Homo sapiens: one gene and its partners. The protein of the gene in region 3 purifies or fractionates together with the protein of the main gene of each other region. This does not show direct contact. Each region holds a gene or a part of one and is shown on either strand. Other genes may lie near its edges.

The links. Proteins that work in one complex are often made in the same cells at the same time.
Region 1: the proteins of TACC1 (region 3) and RNF41 purify together in Homo sapiens (affinity purification with mass spectrometry; 3 studies listed by BioGRID and IntAct, with this or other methods). This does not show direct contact.
Region 2: the proteins of TACC1 (region 3) and TACC2 purify together in Homo sapiens (affinity purification with mass spectrometry; 3 studies listed by BioGRID and IntAct, with this or other methods). This does not show direct contact.

What each region holds. Positions count from the first base shown.
Region 1 is NC_000012.12:56,204,906-56,211,929, forward strand, and holds part of RNF41 (E3 ubiquitin-protein ligase NRDP1), read right to left. Parts: intron 5,664-7,024; coding exon 5,392-5,663; intron 3,394-5,391; coding exon 3,258-3,393; intron 2,845-3,257; coding exon 2,741-2,844; intron 2,406-2,740; coding exon of another isoform or gene 2,402-2,405; exon of another isoform or gene 2,263-2,401; intron 1,894-2,262; coding exon 1,542-1,893; 3' UTR 1-1,541. UniProt on the Homo sapiens protein: Acts as E3 ubiquitin-protein ligase and regulates the degradation of target proteins. Polyubiquitinates MYD88. Negatively regulates MYD88-dependent production of pro-inflammatory cytokines.
Region 2 is NC_000010.11:121,984,682-121,992,179, reverse strand, and holds the start of TACC2 (transforming acidic coiled-coil-containing protein 2), read right to left. Parts: upstream 3,018-7,498; 5' UTR 2,692-3,017; intron 1-2,691. UniProt on the Homo sapiens protein: Plays a role in the microtubule-dependent coupling of the nucleus and the centrosome. Involved in the processes that regulate centrosome-mediated interkinetic nuclear migration (INM) of neural progenitors.
Region 3 is NC_000008.11:38,825,225-38,832,248, reverse strand, and holds part of TACC1 (transforming acidic coiled-coil-containing protein 1), read right to left. Parts: intron 6,942-7,024; coding exon 6,881-6,941; intron 5,082-6,880; coding exon 4,874-5,081; coding exon of another isoform or gene 4,821-4,873; exon of another isoform or gene 3,679-4,820; intron 1,125-3,678; coding exon 1,072-1,124; intron 1-1,071. UniProt on the Homo sapiens protein: Involved in transcription regulation induced by nuclear receptors, including in T3 thyroid hormone and all-trans retinoic acid pathways. Might promote the nuclear localization of the receptors.

The DNA.
Region 1 (7,024 bases), on a different chromosome or scaffold from region 3:
CACTCCCACCTCCATATTAAAATAATCACACCTATTATCTCTCCCCTTCTCTTACTCTGCCAGTCACTCTAGGGATCAAGGTATACCCCAGGTAACCTGAAATGGAACTGAAGTCCCCAGGGGGGTGTGGGTGAGACACGGCACAGCCTGTACTTAGAGATAAAATTTCTGATTTGCATGGTGAAGCTTAGAACCCAGCTATACAGCTCCAAGGAAACTTGGGGAAGGGGGAGTTGCCTTCAAAATGAATACTCTAAATCCAGAGTTTTATGATAAGGCCCTGGAAGGGCTAGGAGGAAATTTTTCCAGAGGGCACAGGCATCGATGCTGGACTGTCATATCCTTCACAGGAAGAGAGGAAGCTCCTCATTTCAGTTGGGGTTACAGAGGTTTGGGGCAGATATCGTAAGTTCAGCCGAGGACTCCCTTGGCTCTTCCTATATTAAAGCCAAAGGTTGTGCTGAAAAGGAAAAAATATAAAACACACCCCCATCCCTGTCCCACCCTATCCAGAACCCCCACAATAGGAACATCAAAAGAAAAGTTTCAAGTTTGATTTTTTTTTCTTTTTTCCTTTCTTAAAAAAAAAAAAAGGAAGTAAATAAATTAAATTGCCAACAATGTGGCTGAGATAGCCATGATCAGGCCATTCTTAAAAAAAAGAGGGGGGGGGGCAGTAGGTGGAGTTTGTGAAATATAAACAAACAATGGCCAAAGAAAATTATCAAAGTAACTAACTACAGTCACAGGGCTAGAGAGGGGTCTATGGAACAATTATGGCCTGTGCCACAAGAGGCAGTGCCAACCATATTTTAGCAAAAGCTAGGAGTAGCTTCTTGCTAAACACATCAACCCCCAACAGATTAACCCCTACCCTAAACCCTGGCATTCCCTAATTATGAAAACTTGTAGGAAAGAAGAGCTCATCTGGAAATTTTCAGTATCCCAACCTGCATACTGGTAGACCCAGTGGGTGCCTACACCTTTAAGGTGGGCTGAACAGGGATACTGCTTGGCACAGAGGTCCAGTCTTTCCCTAAGGGCCATCAGTGATGGCCAATTAACGGCCTCACTACTTATTTCTAGAGATTTGGCTCCACCCTTACCATTTCTTCAGGATGTCTGCTGCTTAGAGTCAACAGGCCTGACTGCTCTGATTCCCTGGTTTTGGAGGAGAGGGACGATTAGAGATTCCTTCCTCTGTCCTGATCCTCCAGGGAAATTGAATCTCTTTGTGCTTTCTGAAAATAACTGGAACCAGGGACCCTAAGCAGGAAAATGGATGGAGGTGGGGGCTTTCCCACCCAGACTGATAATTTATAGACATTTTAGGGGAATATGGCAAAGGGAGGAAATCTGGGTTTCCCACCTGAAAGGCTGAGCAAACTACCCCAAGGCCCTTCAGTGCCAGAAGGGCAGGGAGATGTGTGGCTCAGGTATAAGCCACAGTATTAAGAATGGTGGGTAGGACTCAGGTCCCAGCTGCTGGAGTGATGGGATTTTCTGATTTCCATCTCTTCCTGATAGCCAGTCGAGTTCTCTTATATCTCTTCCACGCCATGCGCAAATATCATGACAAGGCCTGGCTCTTGCACCATGTCATCCCCCATGTGCTGGTTCTCACAGGCCATCACGACAACAGCCTGCTTGCCAGGGATGCGCTTGGCCACGTAGTTCTCATAGTAGCGTCGGTTCATCTGTCTAGTCTCTAGTGTGGCCAGACCCTGGGGCCAGCTACGCTCGTGGGCATTTTCAATCAGCTCGTTGACAATAGAAGCAGGACAGCCACTCTCCACCAGGGAGCGCTTGATTACAGCCTGGAGCACAGCATCAGGAGTCGAGATCATCCCTCCCCAGCGGGTCACTCTTGCTGGCTGAAGGGAGTTCACCCACCTGTGTGGAGGTGGTTAAAGATGGTCATTCCAGCTCATCTCCTTTCTCTGTATTGGCTTTTTCTGCTAATAGAAATAACTACCCACTCTGCACTCAGCTTACCTATTCTTCCTTCTTTCCTTCCATCATTGGCTCAGAAACCCCAAATCTTTCCCCACTTGGTCCCAACTGAGTCACCACATGTTACTCACCAGATTAAATTCCACAAGTCTGCACTCTGTCTCTGTTACTTTTCTTTGAAATTCCAATACTTAGCACATATAGCGCCTAACACAGTTAGTGCTCTATGTTTAGTGAATAAAACAATTATTCCTCTATCCTATGTCCCACTCAGCACTATTTGCCCTGTATATATTGATTCACACTTACAGTTTACTCTATGAACTGTATAGGACTCCAGAACTGAAAGAGATCTTAGACTTCACTTGTATACTTCGCTTGTTTTTGCTGCATTTTAGAGATCACTTTCCTGGACTTGCACTCTGCCTCCTCTTCTCTGGGTTGTAAGCTACCTGAAGACAGGACGATATCTTCTATTTCTTTTTGGCCCTCCTAGCACTCCACAGCCTTTAATACAGGGCTTTGTACATGGGTACTCACCTAATTCTGGATAAAGTGCATCCTTGGGCAGGCTTTCCCTCCATCCACCCAAACACATAAGACATCCTGTAGTGGAGCTAAGGGTTATCCTCTTCTCCTCTGCCCCTGTCCTTAATGCCAATATCTGAGAAGCAGTGACCCCCAGCCCAGCTCTCCAATGCCCTCCTTCTGCTACTCTCCTGCTCTTCCTCCTTTCAGGCCTTGTTGTCAGGACATGAAATCACTCCACGTCCTGAGTGACACTCACTCTAGGATCTCGTTGTATTCAATTGTCTCCTCCAGGTTCTGAAGGTTGGGGTTGACACTGCGGATTGCACGCATGTATGCCTTTAGCAGCTGGATGTCTCGCTTCTGTTGTGGGGAAGAAGAACAGGAATAATGGTTAAGGCAGACAGCAGAAAAAAGACAAAAGTTTATCCAAGAATGAGGGCAACTGAGAGATCTGAAGAACAACCAGTTTGTAAGCTTCAGGAAGACAGGGATAAGACTGTCTCACTCACAGCTGTCTCCTTAGTACTTACAAATGTGCCTTCACAGAGGAGGCATGTGATAACTGGTAGGTGAATTAATGCTATGAATGGGATGAAGAAAAGTCAAGGAGAGCTCCAATCTGATTCCCTGCTAAGCCACAGGCAGAATATCCACTCATCTAGGCTCACAAGTGTAAGCACTGGTCTGTGTGTTCACAACTGGTTTTTATTACCCACAGGCAGGCAGTTATCTGCATATGAGGGATATGTTCTCCCCCGTGTCTTGGGGCCTACCTGCTCCGCCAGCTGGTGTTTGTGTTCAGCTGACGTCTTCTCCAGCTCTGCGATGCGTGTCTGCTGCTGCTGTACCACTGAGCGCAGGTGCTTAATGCAGTTATGGTTGGGCAGCTCATCTTTGGGCATCTCCAGGCTGCAGACCAGGGTGGGGAAAGAGCAGAACAGAGGTGATCCCTGGGACATGTATGCAAATGGCCTATTCTGTGGCAGATAACTGCTAAGTAGATTTTGTCCTACCCAAAATTTCTAACATTCATTTCAGGCCTCCCTCTTGTTTATTCCCTTCACTTTCTTCGTCCAAGCTTCCTACTTGCCCCTTTGCTGTCTATTTTCCTTAAATTTCTTTCCCCAATCAAGACACAGTGTTTTATCTATTTTTTAAATTTATTTTATTTTGTATTTTTATTATTTTTTTTGACACGGAGTTTCGCTCTTGTTGCCCAAACTGGAGTGCGATGGCATGATCTCAGCTCAGCGCAACCTCTGCCTCCCAGGTTCAAGCGATTCTCCTGCCTCAGCCTCCCGAGTAGCTGGGATTACAGGTGCGCGCCACCATGGCCGGCTAACTTTTTGTATTTTTAGTAGAAATGGGGTTTCTCCATGTTAGCCAGGCTGGTCTCAAACTCCTGGCCTCACGTGATCTGCCCCCCTCGGCCTTCCAAAGTGTTGGGATTACAGGCGTGAGCCACCGCGCCTGGCCTTTTTTTTTTTTTTTCGAGACCAAGTTTCACTCTTGTCACCCAGGCTGGAGTGCAATGGCACGGTCTCAGCTCACTGCAACCTCCGCCTCATGGGTTCAAGTAATTCTTGTGCCTCAGCCTCCCGAGTAGCTGGGATTACAGGTGCCCACCACCACACCTGGCTAATTTTTATATTTTTAGTAGAGATGGGGTTTCACCATGTTGGCCACGCTGGTCTTGAACTCCTGACCTCAGGTGATCCGCCCGCCTCGTCCTCCCAAAGTGCTGGGATTACAGGCGTGAGCCACCGCACGGGGCCTATTTATTTATTTTGACACACTGTTTTTATCTACTGCACAGCTCTCCTTTTCCTCCTACAGATTCTGCCTGTGCACTTATTCCTTCAGAGAAGCCCTATATTCACAGCCCCAGCTATCAACATTCTTTTTATTTTTTAGTTAGGGGGAACAGAGTCTCATTCTGTCACCCAGGCTGGAGTGCAATGGCGCGATCTCAGCTCACTACAACCTCTACCTCTGGTTTTAAGTGATTCTCATGCCTCAGCCTCCTGAGTAGCTGGGATTACAGGCGAGCACCACCACACTTGGCTAATTTTTTTTTTTTTTTTTTGAGACGGAGTCTCGCTCTGTTGCCCAGGCTGGAGTGCAGTGGCTCAATCTCTGCTCACTGCAAGCTCCCCGTCCCAGGTTCATGCCGTTCTCCTGCCTCAGCCTCCCAAGTAGCTGGGACTACAGGTGCCTGCCACCACGCCTGGCTAGTTTTTTGTATTTTTAGTAGAGACGGGGTTTCAATGTGTTAGCCAGGATGGTCTCAATCTCCTGACCTCGTGATCCACCCGCCTTGGCCTCCCAAAGTGCTGGGATTACAGGCGTGAGCCACCGCGCCCGGCCCCACACCTGGCTAATTTTTGTATTTTTAGTAGAGACAAGGTTTTGCCATGTTGGCCAGGTTGGTCTTGAACTCCTGGCCTGAAGTGACTTGCCCACTTCGGCCTCCCAAAGTGCTAGGATTACAGGTGTGAGCTAACATGCCCTTCAGCTATCAACATTTAGTCGAATATTTCATAACCCACAGAAATAAAAAAATAGGGCAAGAGGAAATATGAGAAGGCTGGCAATTATAGCAGTCAACCTGACAAACGGAAAGTAGTATTGGACTGAAAGGGAAGAATAGAGTCAATCAAGCTTTAATGTTATTACACAAATTTACTAAATTGCTGTGCCCCTTCTTTTGTTAAAGCAAGAGCAAAATGATTATAGTTGGAAAAGCAGCAAGAAAGTAAGATCTTAGAGCAGGAAGCCAAGGAGGCTAAGAATACTCCTTGCCAACATGCCAAAGAGACCTCCTCAGCTAGTGAGGAGGGCAGCCAGAGACAGGGGCATAAATGAGATGGCCCTTATCCATGTGGGGCAGAAGGGAACAAATCTCACCCACAGCCCTGTTCACAGGTCACAGGCCGCTTCGGGTTGTGCTCACAGTCGCTGAGGTGAGACATGAGGTTGTCAAGCCGGACAACGGCACTACAGCCGAACACAGCGTTGTCACAGGCAATCTGCAGCTTTGACAACATGTTCCGCATGATCCGAGGTACTGGGCGCAGATGGGCGACCGTCACAACACTACGGTCCACTGGACATGTCTGTTGCTGAGAGAACCACTGGGTGATGCAGGCGTTGCAGAAAGCATGTTCACAATGAGGTGCCTAGAAGAGAGAACAAGGCAAAAGGGGCGCAAGGGAATTAGCAGGACCTAAGAGCCTGGATATGATATAACTCTACAAAGCCAATCAAGCCTTTGAGCAGCCTCTACGACAAGAGGTCCACTGGGTCACAGCAAAGTATAGATCTACTACGGGCAAGGCATTGTAGGGGACAGGCTTAAGATACGTTTCCTGCTGGGCACGGTGGCTCATGCCTGTAATCCCAGCACTTTGGGAGGCTAAGGCAGGCACACTGCTTGACCTCAGGAGTTTGAGACCATCCCAGACAACATGACAAAACCCCATCTCTACAAAAATTACAAAAATTAGCCGGGCATAGGCCGGGCGCAGTGGCTCACGCCTGTAATCTCAGCACTTTGGGAGGCCGAGGCAGGCGGATCATGAGGTCAGGAGTTCAAGACCAGCCTGACCGACATGGTGAAACCCTGTCTCTACTAAAAATAAAAAAATTAGCCAGGGGTGGTGGCGCATGCCTGTAATCACAGCTACTCAGGAGGCTAAGGCAGGAGAATAGCTTGAACCCAGGAGGTGGAGGTTGCAGTGAGCCAAGATCACACCACTGCACTCTAGCCTGGGCAATACATCTCGAAAAAAAAAAGCTGGGCCTGGTGGCACGTGCCTATAGTCCCAGCTAGCCAGGAGGCTGAGGTGGGAGGATGGAGGATGGCTTGAGCCCATAAGGCGGAGGTTGCAGTGAACCAAGACTGCACCACTGCACTCCAGCCTGGGTGACAGAGCCAGAACCTGTTTCAAAATAAATAAATAAATATATATATATATATTCCCTGTGCTCAAGATTAAAAATGAGTTGTGAAACAAGACAAACAAGTAAAAAGTTATATAACAATAAGAGATACAAATGATATTCTAGGACAATAGGACAGATGACACAAGGCAGCCAATTATTAATTGCCATCTGGATTGCATACACAATAATTGCCAAAAATGTCCAGAGGAGGGTGAGGTCTTTTCAGGCTAGCTCAATCACGGCAGGTATTTATGAAGAGGACAGAATTTGATATGGGTCTTGAAGGATAATTCAGATGATAGATTTAGAGAGGAGGAGGACATATTTACTGGCAAAAATTCAATGTAAGAAAGCTAGGCCAGGCATGGTGGATGGCGCCTGTAATCCCAGCACTTTGGGAGGCTGAGGTGGGCGGATAATGAGGTCAGGAGATTGAGACCATCCTGGCTAACATAGCGAAACCCTGTCTCTACTAAAAATACAAAAAATTAGCCGGGCGTGGTGGCGGGTGCCTGTAGTCTCAGCTATTTAGGAGGCTGAGGCAGAAGAATGGCGTGAACCTGGGAGGCAGAGCTTGCAGTGAGCCAAGATCATG
Region 2 (7,498 bases), on a different chromosome or scaffold from region 3:
TGATCTGGGAACAGTTTTTTAGTACTCCCACTAGCACCAACACATAAAACGTGGGTGAAATGGTGATGCAGTTTGGCTGTGTCCCCACCCGGATCTCATCTTAAATTCCCACTTGTTGCAGGAAGGACCTGGTGGGAGGTAATTGAATCATGGGGGCAGGTCTTTCCCATGTTGTTCTCATGATAGTGAATAAGTCTCACGAAATCTGATGATTTTATAAGGGGAGTTTCCCTGCACAAGCTCTTTCTTTGCCTGCTGTCATCCATGTAAGATGTGACTTGCTCCTCCTTGCCTCCTGCCATGATTATGAGGCCTCCCCAGCCACACGGAACTGTGAGTCCATTAAACCTTCTTCCTGTGTAAATTGCCCATCTTGGGCATGTCTTTATCGGCAGCATGAAAATGGACTAATGCAAATGGCTTTGAGATATAAAAAAGTTTTAAATTACACTAAAGTCACAAGTCAGAGTTCCAATGTCTGTAAACAACAGTGCAGTTCCCATGATCCTGATGAAAACCTGCAGACATCTCTGTATACCGGCTGAGATGGTGCCACCATACAGCAACAGTGTGAGTGCAGTTTCTATCATTCACTCAGCTGCTCAGCTTTGAAATGATTCTTGACCAAAACATTCATTCATTAATTAGCAAAAAAGACTTATTTTTAATTTGAGATGTGAACTATTTCAAAACTTGCTCATAAAGTCAGGTTTGATTAATGTTATTTTATTTCATATTAGTTCCTATTTGCCCAGTTGAAATACACGTAAACACAACCTTGCTGAAAATCACTAGCATGTGGCGGACAGCGCAAAGAAAACAAAACATTTCCCAGGCAATGCTTAGAGCTCCTGATTATTTAAAAGCTCTGAGGGGAAAATAAATTTAAAGTAATGTTTGAAATGACAGTAAACAGGTGGATTTATAAAAATAAAAATATACAATGTTTAAGGTTCATTTATCTCCATACATAAAATAAATAAATAAAAGCCCTCTCTTTACTGAAGAAGACAGAACACACAAATGCAACTCCTTTCCTTTAAGAGACTTCATTAAAATGATAACAAAGGCATTTTTAAAAACAAGTAGGTCCAGATGAGGCGTAGTGGCTCATACCTGTAATTCCAGTACTTTGGGAGGCTGAGACAGGTGGATCACTTGAGGTCAGGAGTTTGAAACCAGCCTGGCCAATATGGCAAAATCATCTCTACTAAAAATACAAAAATTAGCTGGGCGTGGTGGCAGGTGCCTGTAATCCCAGCTACTCAGGGGGCTGAGGCAGGAGAATCGAGTGAACCTGGGAGGCAGAGGTTGCAGTGAGCCGAGAAGGCAACACTACACTCCAGCCTGGGTAACACAGCGAGTCCCTGTCTCAAAAACAAACAAACAAACAACAACAACAAAAAAACAGGTATGTCCAGACAATAATGTAATAATGTGGCAAACTGGAGAAGGCACATTAGCTGATGAGAGCTTTCTCCATGGTTGTGGGTAATGGAAAGCAGTGACGGCCTGGTAGTTGAGGAATTAGGGCAGAGGGGCATTAGACTAGAGTAGAAGGGGCTCCAGCCAAACAAGACTCTGCAGACCCTGGAGAGGGTCTGAAACACCAGGAACAATGGTGGGAACGTACTTGGGCAGAAAATTAAAAATAAGTGTCAATGGAATCTACCCTTTGCCCTGCCTGGCCCCGTGCCATAAGACAAAAACAAAATTGAAAACGAAAGCAAAACCTTTCCTATATCCTGATATTTAAAATTCTGGCAGTGTTTGGTGGCTCATACCTATAATCCCAGCACTTTGGGAGGCTGAGGCAGGAGGATCACTTGAGCCTAGGGGTTTGAGACCAGCCTGGCCAACACGGCGAGACCCCCATCTCTATAAAAAATAAAAAATATTAGCTGAATTTAGTGGCATGCACCTGTAGTTCCAACTACTTGAGAGGATTGCTCCTGGTGGGAGGATTGCGTTAGCCCGGGAGGTCGAGGCTGCAATGAACCATCATTATGCCACTGCACTCCAGCCTGGGCAGTAGAGCAAGACCCTGTCTAAAAAAAAAAATCCACAGAAGGTTGAAGGTAAATTTAATAAAATATCTCAAAAAACAGAATTAAAGAAATATTTAAAATATGAAAAAATATTAAAGGTCTGGAGAATCAAACTGTGAGGTCCCTATCTAAGTGACGGGAGATGCAGACATGACACAGAAAAGTAGAAGGAAGAAAGTGTCGAGGTGGTAACATAAAAATATTTCCCATGCTGCACATGCTGGCATGTGCTTGTGGTACCAGCTGCTTGGGAAGCTGAGGCAGGAGAATCACTTGAGCCCAGTAGTTCTGGGCTACAGTGAGCCATGATCATGCCACCGCACTCTGGCTTGGATGACAGAGTAAGAACCTATCTCTAAAAACATAAAAAAAAAAAATAAAATTAATTTAAAAAATAAAAATAAATCATAATTTTTTCCAAAGTTGAAAGACGCAAAAGGGCTCTCACTAGGTGCCTAGCACAGTAGATGAAAATACCTCATACAGTTCTGTGAGTTGGCTGGGCTCAGCCAGGCAGTTCTCACCTTGAGTGATGGTGCTCCCCAGCCACTGAACCTAAGAAGATAGGGTTTTCCTACCCTGTATTTTCAAGTAATGGGAATCAGAGCCAACTTCATTTTCCAGCCCTCTCCTCCTTACTTACCGCACTCCAGCTGTTACCAGTAGGGAATCTGATGTGTCTGCAGCAGCAACTCTATTCTTCCCTCCTCAGAGGAAAAAATTCGCCCAAGGGGCATAAGGTAGAGTAAGAAACCAAGATAACTTTTAGAGCAGGAGTGAAAGTTTTTAAAAAAGTTTTAGAGAGGAATGAAAGGAAGTAAAGTATACTTGGAAGAGGACCAAGCGGGTGACTTGAGAAATCCCAGTGCACTGTACAACCCTTAATGTGGGGTTTTATATGTTGGCACGGTTCTGGGATTTGCGTTTCTTCTCTCCTGATCCTTCCCTTGGAGCAGGCTGTCCACTTATGCAGTGGTCTGCCAGCACTTGGGAGTGGCCGCACTCACAGTGTGTTTACTGAAGTTGTGCGCGTGCTCATTTGAGGCATTTTTCCCTTGCCAGTCGAGAATTCCTAGAGGAAGGTCATATATTAGTTAAACTCTGACATTTTGCCCCTTAGGGCCCATGCTTGAGCCCACTTGCCCAACTCCTGAGATCTTATCAGGAAGCGGCTGACACTAGCTTCAGGTGTTTTCTATCTATTGGGAGCCGGCCTTTCCCTGGTGCTGGCTGCAACCAATGATGATTTTAGAGAAACAGTGTAACAACCACCTGACCATCACATGATGGTCGCCTGACATTCCTGGTTGGGGGTGGGGGTGGAATGCCCTCTGCTGCCCTTCTCATGTTCCCCTAGCTACCTACTCTAACACAGGTATGTATGCCTTTCTGAACTTTCTTGAATGTGTCAGACTTATTTTAACCCCAAAGACTTTTTTTTGCTATTGCCTTTGACTACAATATGACTTCCCTGTATTTTTGCATGACACATTACTCCTCACAATTCAAGTCACATCTCAAATGTCACCTCCTCAGGAAAGATGTTGTGCTGCTCATCACACCTAAAATAGCAACTTTCAGGTCGGGCACAGTGACTCATGCCTGTGATCCCAGCACTTTGGGAGGCCGAGGTGGGTGGATTACTTGAGGTTAGGAGTTCAAGACCAGCCTGGCGAACATGGTAAAACCCCCTCTCTACTAAAAAGACAAAAATTAGCCGGGCGTGGTGGCAGGTGCCTGCTATCCCAGCTATTTAGGAGGCTAAGGCAGGAGAACTGCCTGAACCCAGAGGTGGAGGTTGCAGTGAGCCAAGATCGCACCACTGCACTCCAGCCTGGGTGACAGAGTGAGACTCTATCTGGAGGGAAAGAAAAAATGCAACTTCTATTCTCCACCTATCCCTTTAGCCTATTTAAATTCTTCATAGCACTTACAATGACCAAATCCTTTTTTTTTCTTTTCTTTATTATCTGTCTCCTCCATGAGAGTAGGGACTTTGTCTTATTCATCATTATACAGATGGTTCTGGAGCCACCCAACAAGTTCTTCTTCCCCACTGCACAGACAAAAATCAATTCACTGAGACCATGGCATTGCAATAGAGAAAGAGTTTAACTGCCGCGAGGCTGAGCCCACGTGGGAGAACTGGAGTTATCCCTCAGATCAGTCTCCCTGTAGGCTCGGAACAAGGGTTTTTATGGACAATTTGGTTGTCAGGGGGTAGGGGGATAGTGCCGCTGATTGGTTGGGGATGAAATCATACCGGTGTGGAAAGCAGTCCTCATGCACTGAGTCTGCCTCTGGGTGGGGCCCCAGGACCTGTTGAGTCATGAGTCATGAGTCTGAGTGAGGTCAGTCTGAAAAACATCTTAAAAAACTCAATCTTGGCTGGGCGCGGTGGCTCACGCCTGTAATCCCAGCACTTTGGGAGGCCCAGGTGGGTGGATCACAAGATCAGGAGTTCGAGACCAGCCTGGCCAAGATGGTGAAACCCCGTCTCTACTAAAAATACAAAAACAAACAAACAAACAAACACCCCAATCTTAAGTTCTACAATAGTGATGTTACTTACAGGAGCAATTGGGAAAGTCACAGATCTTGTGAACTCTGGCCACATGACCCCTGGGCATTAAGGGACTATAGAAACTATGCCTACATTTTAGCAGAGTTCTGCCTTCTCCCATTATCCTATTCCTGTGGCCTTTCATTAGTCTTACAAAGGCGATTTTGGTCCCTGAGAAAGGAGGGGGTTAGTTTTAGGGAGGGACTATTATAATCTTTACTTTCAAATTAAACTATAAATTGAATTCCTCCCAAAGTTAGCTTGGCCTATGCCCAGGAATAACCAAGGACAGCTTGGAGGTCAGAAGCAAGATGAAGTCAACCATGTCACATTTCTGTTACTGTCAGTTCTGCAAAGGCAGTTTCCTTCCCTAACATAACAATAATTTGATGTAGATTTATCATAAGATGGCTCAAAAGAGAGAATGCATTCAGCAGAAACTGTACTTTGAGTATTCAAACAACTATTCTGTTTTTCAAATTCAGTACAGTATTCAATAAATTCTATGAGATTCAACACTTTGTCACAAACTAGGCTTTGTGTTAGGTGATTTTGCCCAACTGTAGGCTAATGCAAGTGTTCTCAGCACGTTTTAGGTAGGCTAGGCTATGCTACTTTAACAGCTACATTGTCTAGAGTATTTATGCTGGGGTTCCTTGTCTCACAATGAGAAAGAATTCAGGACACAGACACACGTGGGTGGGTTAAGAAGTAGAAAACTTAATAGAAGAAAGGAGAGAGAGAGAAGTCCAAAACGGGAGGCGGCGGACCGCAGCAGATTTTATAGGCAGGCTGGAAAAGGTGGTGTCTGATTTACGCAGACCTCATAGATTGGTACCATCAGGTATGACATTTACATAGCCCGCGAGGAAGACTGGCTGCCCCACCCTAATCTTATTATGTAAATGGACTCTCCAGTTGATCAGCACTATCTTGACTGCTCTTTAATACATTGTATGGTGGTCGACAAAGAGAAAGGAAGACAGAGCCACCATCTTGAACACATATAGTCCCTAGCTCCTGCCGGCATTCACCTGTGCAAGCTCCCAGCTTGCTTGTTTATATCTGCAGCTCAACTTTATAGGCTGCTCTTTGTTAAAAAACAATTTGGGGCTGCTTTTCATTAAGGATAAAAGCCTTACCAAGGACTTCCGTACCCTCACTATCTGCCCAAGTAATTTCTTCTTAACTCCCATATCCCTATGTTCAGTAGGTTAGGTGTGTTAAATGCATTTTCAACTTACAATACTTTTAACTTATGAAGAATTTACAGGGAGCACCTGTATCATTAGTGCCTAGAACATACTTGGAATGTTTGTTGAGTGAATGCTGGATCAGAATCTTGGCTGGGCATGATGGTTCATGCCTGGAATCCCAGCACTTTGGGAGGCCGCGGCGGGCAGATCACCTGAGGTCAGGAGTTTGAGACCAGCCTGGCCAACATGATGAAACCCCATCTCTACTAAAAATACAAAACTTAGCCAGGCATGGCGACCCGTACCTGTAATCCCAGCTACTCGGGAAGCTGAGGCAGGAGAATTGCTTGAACCTGGGAGGCGGAAGTTGCAGTGAGCCGAGATCACACTATTGCACTAGAGCCTGGGTGACAAAAGTGAGACTCCATCTCAAAAAAAAAAAAAAGAAAGAATCCATTTCAGGCAGACAATGGAACAATGCTTTTAAATTCCTGATGAAAAATTAGTTTCAGCTCAAAATTCTATATCCAGTCAAATCTTCAACTAAATGGAAAAGAAAAATAAAGACATTTTTTAGACTCATAAAACTAGCTTGCTTTACATCTCTTCTAAGAAAATACCTCAGCAAAACCAGGGCATAAACGAAACAAAAGTTTTAAACATGGAATCCAGAAAGCAATGAGTTTAACCAAGGATGGCAGTAAAGGGAAACCCCATGGTGACAACTGTGTAGCAAGACTGGAATAACAGCTCATCCAAATTGAAGTGGGCAGACACAGGGCCCTGGGATGGAGATCTCTAGGGGAAAAAAAAAGGAGAGCCAGGCATAGTGGCTCACGTCTGTAATCCTAGCACTTTCAGAGGCCAAGACAGGCAGATCGCCTGAGGTCAGGAGTTCAAGACCAGCCTGGTCAACATGGTGAAACCCTATCTCTACTAAAAATACAGAAATTAGCTGGGTGTGGCAGTGGGTGCCTGTAGTCCCAGCTACTCGGGAGGCTGAGGCAGAAGAATTGCTTGAACTCGGGAGGTGGAGGTTGCGGTAGCCAAGATCACGCCACTGCACTCCAGCCTGGGAGACAGAGCAAGACTCTGTCTCAAAAAAAAAAAAAAAAAAAAAAAAGAAAGAAAAAAGAAAAGAAAAGAAAAGAAAAAAAAGGAGGATTTCCATAGAAAAGTGAATTTGATGAAGAGGTTGGAAAAAGTTGACAATATATTTCTTCAAATAGTACCAAAAAAGCAATTAGAAACTGTAGAGGAAAGCAAAAGTATAAAAGAGAAAATGTAATTGGTAATCTTATTGATCACAAGCTCTGTATCAAACAATATTCACAGAGATCCAAAAAGAAAAATATTCCACATTGATTTCCAAATTTGTGAATCAACTTATAGATGAAGAAGAGATGATTTACTTGTGGTTACAGAACAGCCTTGATGATGTTGTGGGGGGACCTGTGATGCACTGTCCAGGGAAAAAAGAAATTATTTTCCCAGTGACTGGAAATGCTGCCAGCAGACAGCTCTCAGCTGTGTGCCCCTTTGCAGACTGCCTCAGCGGAAGAGAGCTGCATAGTGTGAAACTCAGCTGCTTCCTCTGCCCAATCCTGTTTCCTTCCTTTCTGCAATACATCCCCTAACAAACCTCCTGCATGCCAATCTGTTTCGTAGTCTGCTTCCCAGAGAATCCAACC
Region 3 (7,024 bases):
TAGCACTTTACAGCTTAAATCTTTCACGTTGTCATTTCATCTTATCCTTACAACCACTTTGATAAGGCAGATGGGTGCTACTCATTTTATGGATGAATCAGTTGGGAATTAGGAAGTTTAAAGTTTAAGAACTGAGTAAATGGGCTGGGCGCAGTGGCTCATGCCTGTAATCCCAGCACTTCAGGAGGCCAAGGCAGGTGGATCACCTGAGGTCAGGAGTTTGAGACCAGCTTGGCCAACATGGTGAAACCCCATCTCTACTAATAATACAAAAATTAGCTGGGCGTGGTGGCGCATGCCTGTAATCCCAGCTACTGAGGAGGCTGAGGGAGGAGAACTGCTTGAACCCAGTAGGTGGAGGTTGTAGTGAGCCGAGATTGCGTCACTGTACTCCAACCTGGGTGACAAGAGTGAAACTCTGTCTCAAAAAAAAAAAAAAGAACTGAGTAAACCAGCCAGGTGCAGGGGCTCATGCCTGTAATCCCAGCACTTTGGGAGGCGGAGGTGGGCAGATTGCTTGAGCCCAGGAGTTTGAGACCAGCCTAGGTAACATGGCAAGACCCCATTTCTGCAAAAAATACAAAAACTAGCTGGGTGCGGTGGCACGTGCCTCTAGTTCCAGCTACTTGGGAGGCTGTGGTAGAAGGATCACTTGAGCCCAGGAGGTGAAGGTTGCAGTTAGCCAAGATTGCACCACTGTACTCCAGCCTGGGGAACAGAGTGAGACTGTCTCAAATAATAATAATAATAACAACAATAATAATGATAATAATAAACCTTAGTTAACCCAAGACATCCAAAATATTATCATCTCAACATGTAGTTAATATAAAAAGTTGAGACATTTATGCTTCTTCTTTTTCTGAGTAGCTACAGTTCAAGTGCTCCACAGCTACCTGCGGCTAGGGTTACAATGCAGAGACTATGTGTTCCTCAAGTGAAGAAACTATCTCATTTACATTTTATCCTCATCACCTAACACTGACCAGAATTTAACAAATTCACATGGGCTTCAAAACAAATACTGAAAGAAACCTGAGTCCACCCGGCCCTCCACATTCAGGAACTTACAAGCACAGTGGACCCGTCTTCTTCCATCTTCTGGCACGTCTCCTTCTCTATGCCTAAGACAGAAAGTCATTTTTATAGTTATCCCAAGAAGTCGGTTCCTTTCCTCCCTAGTGAAAGGCTCTTGGAAACCCCAGTGCAGGCGAGAATGACTTATGAACACATGAAAAGCATTTTAAGATTTTATTTAAAAGGAGCGCTGGCATTTTGTTGAGTGCTGTTATAAGTCCATGACATTCAGAAGAGGAGCACATGGTTAGTCAGCCACAAACAGGTCGTCAGCCTTCAGGCTGAAAGAACAGCAAGGCTGCCCCCTTGTGTCCATTAAAAGTTTGGAAAAATGTGTCGTACTAACTGTGGCATTATTTCAGAAAGGGGACACTGTGTAACACTGAATGCTTTTTTTTAATCATCAAGTCGGAGTGAATTTAAATTCCAGCCCAGAAGGGTGGCCTTGATCTAATTAATGCAGCAGATAAGATAATAAGCTTTAAAATTCAAGGCAGCGAAACTAAACTCATTCTCCCCTCCACCCCTTCAAATGGGCTTCCTTGTCTCAGGTCTATCCTCTACTCTACTAGGGTAGAGGATGACATTTAAAATAACCAGAAGATGGCTGGGCACAGTGGCTCATGCCTGTAATCCCAGCACTTTGGGAGGCCAAGGTGGGTGGATCATCTGAGGTCAGGAGACCAGCCTAGCCAACATGGCGAAGCCTCATCTACTAAAAATACAAAAATTAGCTGGGCGTGGTGGCGCATGCCTATAATCTCAGCTACTTGGGAGGCTGAAGCAGGAGAATCGCTTGAACCCGGGAGCTGGAGGTTGCAGTGAGTTGAGATAGCGCCACCACACTCCAGCCTGGGCAACAAGAGCGAAACTCAGTCTCAAAAATAAGAAAAATAAAAAATAAAATAACCAGAAGATGCACTCATTAAAGTAAACATAAAAATACAGAAAAGCATACAAAAGTTTAAAGTTACAATCCTCCACATGGCAATCACTAACTACTATTGTTGTCAATAGCTAATTATTTAAAACACAAATGTGACCATCACTCCCTTATTCAAAAACCTTCAACCTCCCCCTCCCTACCTATAGGATCAAGCCCAGATTCCACGGTATGACCTTGTTTCCCACTTGGCCAGATACTTACAGAAAGCAACCAGGCCTTTTACCAACGTGGCAGCTTTCTTCCCATGGCTGTGTGAAAATCTCATTTCCTGGAGAACATCTAGTAAGTATCCATCAGGACCCAGCTTCAAGGGGACACTCACCAGGACACAGTCAGGATTCACCTAACAGGGCCTGTAGCCATTCCCACACCCAGGACCGCAGCCTCCACTTGCTTGTGATGCGGCTGATCAGTTACAATGTAACCACTTGTTTAAATATGTTCCCCTTGCTGTTTGCTAACTTTGAAGACAGCACTGTATGTACAGGGCCCCAGCTCTCTACATAAATTTTTATTGAAGGAATTTCCTCTAGTGAGGAAGAATATAATTCAATAAATGTTTACCATGTACTGTGTCAAAGGTGACTCAAAGATGAGTGGTAGTCTCTAACCTCAGTAAGTTTATAATATTACCTTCCTGTAATTAACACACTGCGCTAGGTACTGTGGAACAGGAAGGGGGAAAGGAAATGTGGGAGCAAAAGCATGCTGGAGAGACCTGAAGGGATGTGCAGATCTGTGTAAGAGGCAGCAAAGGAAGACACTTCAGATGGAAAAAAACCAAGGCAGGTGTTAAGAATACTCAGGATTAACCCCAAGAAACTGGGGGAATGGTGAACAATATCTTTGGGAAAGATGTCAGGGCAGAAGACAGTATTGGAAGAAATCAGGAACAATGCCTGGCATATTATTTTATAGATGAGAGACTGAGGCCTGGGATGAGAAGGAGGCCAGGGGGAATAAATTGCTCCAAGTCCTGACTTTCCATCTGCTTCCCTGGCTTAATGGCAGATCATGACTTTTAAAATTCTATACATAAAAGCCCATGAATAAAATTATGTTAAGAAGATCTGAGTTTTTAATAATGTTTAATGTAGTCAGGAACATGGTTCTAAACTTTTCATAAGTAAAGTTTAAGGCCAAGGATGTAACTGGGGTCCCAAGAAAGAGGGGCTTAGCTCTAGAATGATCTGATGAGTCCATCAATAAGAGGCTTCCACCCTGGTTAGCCCAGGTTCCTCATTGGCATGTTAAGAAAGATTTTACAGTGCACTGGTCAATCTCAACTTACCACATCTGTACCAGGAAAATTTACAGTAGCCTAGTATCATGAAAATAATCTCTTCATACTTTGGCATTGTGGCGAAAAGACCATGGAACCAGACTGCTTAGAGTCAAATGTAGTTCTACCATTTACTAATGATGAGGTTCAGAACACACTTCACCAAAATATGGTGCCTTCGCATTTGAGGACACAGCAGAAGCAGGGAGGTCTCTCGGCCCCTCTCCTGCCCCCTTTCCTGAAGCAGGCCATAAAGCAACCCCTCAGACCTTCCCCTGAAAATAGTTCATAAGACCTCATTACAAGAGGGGTCCTCCCTGTACACAGAGAAAAACAATGTCCTTATCCTGAAAGACACAGACACCAAGAGGAATTGGAACAAACAGGACTTGCTAAGTTCCCCTGGTTTATTACCACAGATCACACCCTTCTGTCCTCCAATTATACTTCTGCACAACTATCTATAAAAGTACAGTTTTCCCTGTTCCTTTGGGTCTTCATTTCTGGAGGCTCTAATGTCATGTAAAACTTATATTAAATATATTTGTACACTTTTCTCTTGTTGATCTTTTGTTAGAGATGTCTCAGCCATGAACCTTGTGGTGAGGAAAAAGATACCACTTTTCTGTCCTACCCTAGCCAAGTGACTTTAATCAAGTCACTTAACTTCTTTGACTTACTTTGTTTCTCTGAAGAAGTGAGAAAAGGGTAACACCTTGCTATGAATGAGTATATGCAAAGCACTTAAAACAATGCCTGTACATGGTAAGGCACCATACATGTCAGTTGTTATTTCTCTAAGTTAAACAATGAGTATAACAATCACAAAAAAGTCAAACATATGACATATTTATAGGCCATTTGATATAGTTTAAATATTTGCCCCCTAAATCTCATGTTGAAACCTGATCAACAGTTGGAAGTGAGGCCTAATGGGAGGTGGCTGGGTCATAGGAGCGGATCCCTCATGAATAGCTTGGTGCCCTCCTTGTGGTAATGAGCGACTTCTTGCTGTTAGTTTCTGTGAAATCTTTGTTAAAAATAGCCTGGCATCCTCCCCGCCCCCTCTTCCTCCCACCTCTCGCCATGTGACACACTTGCTCCCCCTTGCCTTCCACCATGATTGGAAGCTTCCTGAGTCCCTCACCAGAAGCAGGCACTGGTGCCATGCTTATTCTACAGTCTGCAGAACCATGAACCAAATAAACCTCTTTTTCCTATAAATTAGCCATTCTCAGGTATTCCTTTACAGCAACGCAAATGAACTAACACACCACTATACTTTAAGATATGGCCATATTCACATAAAATTATAAAGAAATTCAAGCAGTCTCACATACATCAGCATCTCCTATACAACTTGTCACAAGTATCTCTACGTTCCTAGTACTTCAATAAGCACTTTGTGTCCCTTTTCCAGGTAAAGAAGCAAAGCATAGGTCAGCATCCTAAATCTATCCTTCAAGTGACCCAATTCTTTAATCTCTGTAAGGCTCCTCCTGCTTTATTAGGCTTTCAGGCATTTCCATGCTTATGTACATTAGAAAGATGAAGATATGCTTCCATACCTGCTTCTGAGGATGAAAACGCATGATTTATGGTAGACACAGGAACATTGGAACATTCAAAGTACTCCAGGTCTTCCTCTGGCTCACCTTTCACCTCGGCACCAGCTGATTTCTGACCACATGACGTGGATGCCAGTTTCTCCTCATCAGTAGCATGGCCATCCCTATTAGAAATGTCTGAAATCTGGGAGATCACTGCCCCTTCATCCTGAGAAACACAACAGAGAAGATGCTACCCTTTAGGAGGGCAAGCAATGGGGAAAAGTGACATCCCATGAATGGAACAAAGTAGACACAACTCCATACAGATATGTGAGAGGTTAACCACAGACCTGGGTACAAAGCAAGGAGGAAGTTGGAGTCTTTCAATTGTGAGATGCTGTTTTATAGAACCTAGTTTCTGTAACTTGAGTCTGAGGTTTTAAAAAATGATCTTCTCTAGGTTAAGTTTATAAGCAAGCAGTTTCAGTGGTTTAAGACAATGGTTTTCAATTTTTTTGCTCATATACCTAATTTTTTTTTGAAAATCTATGTCCCCCATTGCATTTTCAAGTGACATCTAAAAACTTTTTGGCATAAGTTTAAATAATTGCAAAGAATGTAATATCTGGAATATTCTAAATATTGAATTTACTTAATGCTATCTAGTTACCTTAGTGATTTGATACCATATGTAAATTTAAATGAACAAGTTCCTGAATAAGTCAGAAATTTATGTTATTCCTTTTCCTCTCTAAATCTGTATTTCCATCCCACTTCCATCAAGAAACTATCCAAATGAAAAACATCTGCATGGTTGAAAGTCTTTTTAAAAGTCTCTATCCAATGTCTCTGTGAAACTTTTTTCTTTAAGTCTTAAAATTTTTTCTGCTGGAGACTTATCACATTTATTAATGCACAACTTATTTTCAAAATATTGCAAGTTTTGATAAGTATTATCAGACACAAAAGTAAGTTGTTATATCAATTACAAAATGTTTTATTGCACTAATTCTTAAAAACTTTTACAGTGCACTAAATATATGGGTTTTGGGTTTTTGTTTTTGTTTTTTAAAGAAAACCAAAGATAAATTTCTCATAGTTCTTGCTGCCTACTTTAGCAAAATCTGAGGGAGAATGTTACACATTTGTTAACAGATGAAAAATAACTCAGATTGTAAATTTCCCCCATCACACCCCTTTTTTACATCTTACACCATATACCAAGTTTCTGATCCAAATTGTAGAGGAAAAGTTATGTTAAATTGAACTCTATTAACCAATGAATGTATTTCTGTAATAAGTATACTGAGAAAGTTTTAAAAAGAACAAAAGGATCTCATTGCAATCAGATGGGCCTGGGCTTCGCTTTGTTTTGCAATTAGTTTATACGGTCATGGATGGATATTATTTATTGCTAGAATGTAACAAAGGTCAACATCAATTTTATTCCTGGTTTCTATTTTTATCAATATAATCATTAAGAAACCTTATTTATATAAACAATAGATGAAACAGAAAGTAGTTCTGTAACATAAGTGCCTTTCAATTCTTTGAACCCCTTTCCAAGTTATGTGCCCAAAAAAATCTACCATCAAACATTATTTTTAGACCTATCAGCTGACAACTCAGGTTTTCCTCTATTGTTGAAAGCAATGAATTAGAAAACCATCTGACTTAAGAAAAATACCATCCAGTTATTAGAGTCAATTATCTTATTAGAACCTACACCAGTATTTCAGATCTTCCCTTCGGTGCCCTGGAGACTTTCACACCCTGTGGTGATGCATCTTTGTAGCATTTAAAGTGGGAATTTTACCAAAAAAAAAAAAGAGTCATTGTGAAAGGGTTCCCTTGTCTTCAGGGGCCTTCTCTTCAGGGACAGTAAGGATCTGGAAATTGGCTTCTTAAAGCTGAGTACTCAGGTACCCATTGGAAAGTCCTTTTGAACCACCCGCCAGGGGGATGCAAACTCCCACTGGAGGACCCCTGGTCTCAGAGACATTCTGGAGATGGGCACAGACTCACCCGAGAACATGCATCCAGGGCGAGAGACTGAGTTTCATGCTTCTTCACCTTACAGCCACTCCTGGAAAGAGAAGAAACACAAACAAGCCAGTTTGCAATCACACTGACAATTGTCAAGGTATGAAATGGAGCAGACAGCAGTGT